2 separate regions of the Homo sapiens genome follow, and region 1 is linked to region 2. Evidence: fine-mapped expression QTL. Tissue or cell type: whole blood. Region 2 holds a variant in brackets; the other region holds the start of a gene. All regions are shown on one strand. Distances are from middle to middle.

The links. PIP is the estimated chance that this variant, and not a neighbour inherited with it, causes the effect. A credible set is the group of variants that fine-mapping cannot tell apart.
Region 1: CXCL6 starts here. The variant in region 2 is the best candidate, but not a certain one, in a credible set for the expression of CXCL6 in whole blood (INTERVAL, PIP 0.62).

The regions. Positions count from the first base shown.
Region 1 is chr4:73,834,772-73,838,771 of GRCh38, reverse strand. It overlaps CXCL6 (C-X-C motif chemokine ligand 6), which reads right to left and starts at 2,094. Exons shown (of 4, transcript NM_002993.4): 1 at 1,913-2,094; 2 at 1,676-1,808; 3 at 1,486-1,569; 4 at 12-1,149. The coding sequence starts at 2,021. The coding sequence ends at 1,131. RefSeq lists a silencer at 1,826-2,120.
Region 2 is chr4:73,793,491-73,797,850 of GRCh38, reverse strand. No RefSeq gene overlaps it. Among named protein-coding and RNA genes, the nearest start is that of CXCL6, 41 kb to the left of the region's middle. The variant G/A (reference allele first, on the strand shown) is at 2,364.

The sequences.
Region 1 (4,000 bases), 41 kb before region 2:
AACAACATCAGTGGTTTAGAAATCTTTTATTGTTTCTCCAAATGACAATACAAGTACCAAAAACCAACATGACACACAGGAAAAAATAAAAGTGCAATTTTAATATAGTGAATGTGATACATGTATAATTCCTCATAACAAAATGGTCAAAACCTTTAAAAGATCCACAATAGATATCTGAAAATCTTAGCAATGCTATATATATTTTGAGGACTAAATGATGAATTTATATTCAAATTGTTCAAATATATTTTCAAAACTTTCAGAGCACAGATCATTGTTAATTTTGCTTTTATTTAAAAAACCAAGAGAATACATTTCTATGTAAATTAGCAATCAGGAATTTATCTGTTTTTGGGCTTCTTCATCTATCTAAAGTGTATATTTAGTGACCAGAATTATAGTCATCCTATAGTGAAAAAATAGCATACAAAATCAAAGTTTAATGAGTAAATCATGACATTATGCCATACTAAGAAGACATCAAACGTCTAAAACCATAGGAAGAGAATATATTAGCCCTTACAGAACTTAAATTTTTAGAAATTCTGAATAAGGAAATATATTCTGCACAGATAACGGTATGACACACCCAGTGTTCTAATACAGTACAACTTAAATAGCATCCTAGGGTAAAGAGTAACATATTCCCCAAGAAACAGAACTAAAATATTTCCTATTTTATGAGAAGAGTGAGTAAGAACAACAGGATACCTCCCTCAACAGCACACTAATAAAACATTATTTCCATACGAAATCCACAGCCTTTTCGGTAAGACTTTAAGGAATGTATGATAGAAATACAATAGTTATCTTCAATTCAATATTCATTGAAAGACTAATAACCAGTGATTCTTTGCTCACAATATGGTCAATTGCCAAAGGGTTCAATAACTTATCAGGTAAAATAACAGTAAATAGTGGAAATACTATATTAGTACTTCATTAGCTGAGCTGTAAACTTCAGGGAGAAGCGTAGGCTTTCCCCCACACTCTTCAAAGTAGGGAATCCATGTAGAAAATGGAAAAAAACCAACCCTTCCTTCTTATTCTTACTGGGTCCAGGGATCTCCAGAAAACTGCTCCGCTGAAGACTGGGCAATTTTATGATGCATGGTCTTTTTTGTTACTCAGTTTTTCTTGTTTCCACTGTTGAGAAAAGAGTTATATTAGTATAACCAATTCCCACACTCTTGTATGCTACATTTGGTTTTCAAAAGCGTTTGGTGGGGGAAAAAAATCAATAAAAGCAAAGAGCAGACAAAAAATAGATGTCAGTAATGAGCTCTGTGTAATTGTTCAGGCATGTAAGATTGGTGATAAAGGTTTACCCAGAACATTCCAGAAAAAAAGTTTCCTTATTCTTCTTAACAACCTTATAATTCTAAGCATAGTCTAAATCCTACAGAGAGAATAAGGACATTGTGAAGTATATGCTTTCCATAGAAGATATTAAAACACCACAAAGATCAAAGGGACAAATACCTGTCCAAAATTTTCTGGATGACTTTCTTTAGAAAAGGGGCTTCCGGGTCCAGACAAACTTGCTTCCCGTTCTTCAGGGAGGCTCTGAAGTAAAGAAAAAGAGGATGCACCCATGAGCCACAAAGGTTGACGACCCAGGCTGGAGGACTTGCCTAAGTCACAGTGGACACAGCAACACAGGAGAACTTACACCACTTCCACCTTGGAGCACTGCGGGCCTGCGGGGAACACCTGCAGTTTACCAATCGTTTTGGGGTTTACTCTCAGCGTAACGCGTAAACAAGTGCAACGCAGCTCTGTCAGCACAGCAGAGACAGGACCAGCTGGGGAAGAAAGACATTTTTATAGGGCAGGTTGCTGGGAGAGTTCCCTGGAACGCAGCGGCCCCGCAGAGGCTGGGATGCACCCCAGTGCCAGGAGCTCTCACCGCTGGCGAGGGGCCCCGGCGGCGTCAGCAGGAGCAGCAGCGCGAGCAGCGCGCACAAGGAGCCCGAAGGACCCGGGACACGGGCCGCGCGGCTGGACGGGAGGCTCATAGTGGTCAAGAGAGGGTTCGCGGGTTCCTGAGCTGGGTGGAGGCGCGGAGACTGGAGGATACAGAGCACTTTGGTTTCCTCGTGCCTTCTGCACTCCCTTTATCTGCATTCATCCCTCCCGACTGGCAGGAAACTCAAGCTTTGGGATGCTGGGGAAATTCCCTGAACTCAGGGGGCAGTGTGGAAAGAAGGGGTTGGTGGAGGGGGGCGGGAGGATGGGAATTGGTGGGGTGGGTGGCTGGGAGGAGCTGCCTGCTCCCTTAAGGGGGAGGACATTTTAGCCCCGCCCCGCGGTGGAGGGAGCTGTGGCTCCAGCCAAAATAGAGCAGCGATTCAGCAGGGTCTCATCCCCTGGGCTTGAGGGGTTAGCGAGGCTGGCTTCTCTGAGGCACGCAGCTGTCTGGGAGATGCTCCTCCTCTCCAATGGCCAGGACAATTAGGCAGGAGAAGGAAATAAAGGGTATTCAATTAGGAAAAGAGGAAGTCAAATTGTCCCTATTTGCAAATTACATAATTGTATATCTAGAAAACCCCATGGTCTCAGCCCAAAATCTCCTTAAGCTGATAAGCAACTTCAGCAAAGTCTCAGGATACAAAATCAATGCACAAAAATCACAAGCATTCTTATACACCAATAACAAACAAACAGAGACATGGTCTCAGCCCAAAATCTCCTTAAGCTGATAAGCAACTTCAGCAAAGTCTCAGGATACAAAATCAATGCACAAAAATCACAAGCATTCTTATACACCAATAACAAACAAACAGAGAGCCAAATCATGAGTGAACTCCCATTCACAATTGCTTCAAAGAGAATAAAATACCTAGGAATCCAACTTACAAGGGACATGAAGGACCTCTTCAAGGAGAACTACAAACCACTGCTCAATGAAATAAAAGAGGATACAAACAAATGGAAGAATATTCCATGCTCATGGGTAGGAAAAATCAATATCGTGAATATGGCCATACTGCCCAAGGTAACTTATAGATTCAATACCATCCCCATCAAGCTACCAATGACTTTCTTCACAGAATTGGAAAAAACTACTTGAAAGTTCATATGGAACCAAAAAAGAGCCCGCATGGCCAAGTCAATCCTAAGCCAAAAGAACCAAGCTGGAGGCATCACGCTACCTGACTTCAAACTATACTACAAGGCTACAGTAACCAAAACAGCATGGTACTGGTACCAAAACAGAGATATAGATCAATGGAACAGAACAGAGCCCTCAGAAATAATGCCGCATATCTACAACTATCTGATCTTTGACAAACCTGAGAAAAACAAGCAATAGGGAAAGGATTCCCTATTTAATAAATGGTGCTGGGAAAACTGGCTAGCCATATGTAGAAAGCTGAAACTGGATCCCTTCCTTACACCTTATACAAAAATTAATTCAAGATGGATTAAAGACTTAAACGTTAGACCTGAAACCATAAAAACCCTAGAAGAAAACCTAGGCATTACCCATTCAGGACATAGGCATGGGCAAGGTCTTCATGTATAAAACACCAAAAGCAATGGCAACAAAAGCCAAAATTGACAAATGGGATCTAATTAAACTCAAGAGCTTCTGCACAGCAAAAGAAACTACCATCAGAGTGAACAGGCAACCTACAAAATGGGAGAAAATTTTCGCGACCTACTCATCTGACAAAGGGCTAATATCCAGAACCTACAATGAACTCAAACAAATTTACAACAAAAAAACAAACAACCCCATCAAAAAGTGGATGAAGGACATGAACAGACACTTCTCAAGACATTTATGCAGCCAAAAAACACATGAAACAATGCTCACCATCACTGGCCATCAGAGAAATGCAAATCAAAACCACAATGAGATACCATCTCACACCAGTTAGAATGGCAATCATTAAAAAGTCAGGAAACAACAGGTGCTGGAGAGGATGTGGAGAAATGGGAACACTTTTACACTGTTGGTGGGACTGTAAACTAGTTCAACCAGTGTGGA
Region 2 (4,360 bases):
GATATTGTATTGGTATATGCAGGACACTATGCATTTGTAAAAACTAACTCGTGGAATTTTATAGTGTAAAGGCAGAAGAAACAGTACATAAGATTGTTTTCTGGTCGGTAATGTTGATTACCATGGAGGTACAGGATAACAAATCTAAAACCACTATATATAGAATTGAACAATTAAGTAAAAAGGTAGCTGATAGTGGGAGCTAGGTTTCTCACTGTTCAAGTGAGTGGTTACATACAGAATAATTTATAGATATATGTACAAACTTTGGTTAGTATTCACACATATATTTCCTTGCATTGCCAGCTGAATATATCTAAAAGCAACAGTGCCCCAGTAGTAATGAATATATTTACTATCCAGAACTTGTTTTCTAATACCACTCCCCAGTAATAGGAACCAGGGATCCTTGAGAAAATGGTTGATTCTCAAACTATAGCATAAAACATACTACATAAGCCAGAAGTACCTTGTAGTTCCAGGAACCATGAGCCACAGCACTGGGTGGGTGTTCAAGGTTAACGTCAATTGTAATAAATCATATTGACATGATAAAGATGACATAATATCTTTGATGTGATGTAACGAGTATATGACTTCTTATCTCTATGGGTTTCTTCTCCAAACCCAAAAATTCTAGCCTAATTATGAGAAAAATATCAGATAAATCTTTTTTTTAACTTTAGGGAGAAAATTTTGTATTTTTAAAACTTGCATAAAAGTTATGCAAGTTTTGCCAGGAGCGGTGGCTCACGCCTATAATCCCAGCACTTTGGGAGGCAGAGGCGGGCGGATCACGAGGTCAGGAGATCGAGACCATCCTGGCTAACACAGTGAAACCCCGTTTCTACTAAAAATACAAAAAATTAGCTGGGCCTGGTGACGGGCGCCTGTAGTCCCAGCTACTCTGGAGGCTGAGGTAGGAGAATGGCCTGAACCCAGGAGGCGGAGCTTGCAGTGAGCGAAGATCGCGCCACTGCACTCCAGCCTGGGCGACAGAGCAAGACTCCGTCTCAAAAAAAAAAAAAAAAAAAAAAAAAGTTATGCAAGTTTTTTGAATTATACTTTAAGTTCTCAGATACATGTGCAGAACGTGCAGGTTTGTTACACAAGTATATACGTGCCATGGTGGTTTGCTGCACCCATCAACCCGTCATACACATTAGGTATTTTTCCTAATGCTAGCCCTCCCCTAGCTCCCCAACCCCTCGCAGGCCCTCGTGTGTGATGTTCTCCTCCCTGTGTCCATTTGTTCTCGTTGTTCAACTCCCCCTTATGAGTGAGAGCATGCGGTGTTTGGTATTCTGTTCCTGTGTTAGTTTGCTGACAATTATGGTTTCCAGCTTCGTCTATGTCCCTGCAAAGGACATGAACTCATCCTTTATATGGCTAAATAGTATTCCATGGTGTATATGTGCCACATTTTCTCTATCCAGTCTATAATTGATGGGCATTTTTGTTGGTTCCAAGTCTTTGCTATTGTGAATAGTGTTTCAATAAACATATGGGTGCGTGTGTATTTATAGTAGAACGATTTATAATTCTTTGGTTATATACCCAGCAATGGAATTGCTGGGTCAAATGGTATTTCTGGTTCTAGACCTTGAGGAATCACCACACTGTCTTCTGCAATGGTTGAACTAATTTACACTTCCACCAACATTGTAAAAGCAATCCTATTTCTCCACATCCTATCCAGCACTCGTTGTTTCCTGACTTTTTAATAATCACCATTCTAACTGGCATGAGTTGGTATCTCATTGTGGTTTTAATTTGTATTTCTCTAATGACCACTGATAATGAGCTTTTTTTTTCATATGTTTGTTGGCTGCATAAATGTCTTCTTTTGAGACGTGTCTGTTCATATCCTTCACTCACTTTTTGATGGGCTGTTTGTTTTTTTCTTGTAAGTTTGTTTAAGTTTTTGTAGCTTCTAGATATTAGCCCTTTATCAGATAGATAAATTGCAAAATTTTTCTCCCATACTGTAGGTTGCCCATTCACTCTGATGATAGTTTTTTTTGCTGTGCAGAAGCTCTTTAGTTTAATTAGATCCCATTTGTCAATTTTGGCTTTTGTTGCCATTGCTTTTGTTGTTTTAGTCATGAAGTTTTTGCCCACGCCTATGTCCTGAATGGTATTGCCTAGGTTTTCTTCAAGGGTTTTTATAGTTTTAGGTCTTGCATTTAAGTCTTTAATCCATCTTGAATTAATTTTTGTATAAGGTGTAAGGAAGGGGTCCAGTTTCAGTTTTCTGCCTATGGCTAGCCTGTTGTCCCAACACCATTTATTAAATAGGGAATCCTTTCCCCATTTCTTGTTTTTGTCAGGTTTGTCAAAGATCAGATGGTTGTAGATGTGTG[G/A]CATTATTTCTGAGGCCTCTGTTCTGTTCTATTGGTCTATATATATGTTTTGGTACCAGTACCATGCTGTTTTGGTTACTGTAGCCTTGTAATATAGTTTGAAGTCAGGTAATGTGACGCCTCCAGCTTTGTTCTTTTTGCTTAGGATTGTCATGGCTATACCGGTGCATTTTTGGTTCCATATGAAATTTAAAGTAGTTTTTTTTTTCTAATTCTGTACAGAAAGTCAATGGCAGCTTGATGGGGATAGCACTGAATCTATAAATTACTTTGGGCAATATGGCCATTTTCATGAGATTGATTCTTCCCATCCATGAGCATGGAATGTTTTTCCATTTTTTTGTCTTCTCTCTTATTTCCTTGAGCAGTGGTTTGTAATTCTTTTTGAAGAGGTCTTTTACAACCCTTGTAAGTTGTATACTTAGATATTTTATTCTCTTTTTAGCAATTGTGAATGGGCCTTCACTCATGATTTTGTTCTCTATTATTGGTGTGTAGGAATGCCTGTGATTTTTGCACATTGATTTTGTATCCTGATACTTTGCTGAAGTTGCTTATCAGATTAAGGAGATTTTGGGCAGAGACGATGGGGTTTTCTAAATGTACAAGCATGTCATCTGCAAACAGAGACAATTTGACTTCCTCTCTTCCTATTTGAATACCATTTATTTCTTTCTCTTGCCTGATTGCCCTGGCCAGAACTTCCAATACTATGTTGAATAGGAATGGTAAGAGAGGGCATCCTTGTCTTGTGTGGTTTTCAAAGGGAATGCTTACAGGTTTTGCCCATTAAGAATTATATTAGCTGTGGGTTTGTCATCTATAGCTCGTATTATTTTGAGATATGTTCCATCAATACCTAGTTTATTGAGAGATTTTAGCATGTAGTGGTGTAGAATTTTATCTAAGGCCTTTTCTGCATCTATTGAGATAATCATGTGGTTTTTGTCATTGGTTCTGTTTATGTGATGGATTATGTTTATTGATTTGAGTATGTTGAACCAGCCTTGCATCCCAGGAATGAAGCTGACTTGATCATGGTGGATAAGTTTTTTAATGTGCTGCTGGATTCACTTTGCCAGGATTTTATTGAGGATTTTTGCATCAATGTTCATCAAGAATGTTGGCCTGAAATTTTCTTTTCTTGTTGTCATTGTGTCGCTGCCAAGTTTTGGTATCGGGATGATCCTGGCCTCATAAGATGAGTTAGGGAGGAGTCCTTCAATTTCTATTGTTTGGATGTTTCAGAAGGAATGGTACCAGCTCCTCTTTGTACTTTTGGAAGAATTCAGCTGTGAATCTTTCTGGTTCTGGGCTTTTTTTGGTTGGTAGGCTATTAATTACTGCCTCAATTTCAGAACTTGTTATTGGTCTATTCAGGGATTTGACTTCTTCCTGGTTTAGTCTTCGGAGGGTGTAATTGTCCAGGAATTTATCCATTTCTTCTAGATTTTCTAGTCTATTTGCATAGAGGTGTTTATAGTAAGCTCTGATGGTAGTTTGTATTTCTGTGGAATCAGTGGTGATATCCCCTTTATCATTTTTTATTGTCTGTTTGATTCTTCTCTATTTTCTTCTTTATTAGTCTGGATAGCAATCTATCTATTTTTTTAATCTTTTCAAAAAACCAGCTCTTGGATTCGTTGATTTTTTGAAGGGTTTTTTGTGTCTCTATCTCCTTCAGTTCTGCTCTGATCTTAGTTATTTCTTGTCTTCTGCTAGCTTTTGAATTTGTTTGCTCTTGCTTCATTAGTTCTTTTGTGATATTAGGGTGTCAATTTTAGATCTTTTCTGCTTTCTCTTGTGGGCATTTAGTGCTATAAATTTCCATCTTAACACTACTTTAGCTGTATCCCAGAGAGTCTGGTACATTGTGTCTTTGTTCTAATTGGTTTCAAATAACTTCTTTATTTCTGCCTTAATTTCGTTATTTACCCAATAGTCACTCAGGAGCAGGTTGTTTAGTTTCCATGTAGTTGAGTGAGTTTCTTAATCCT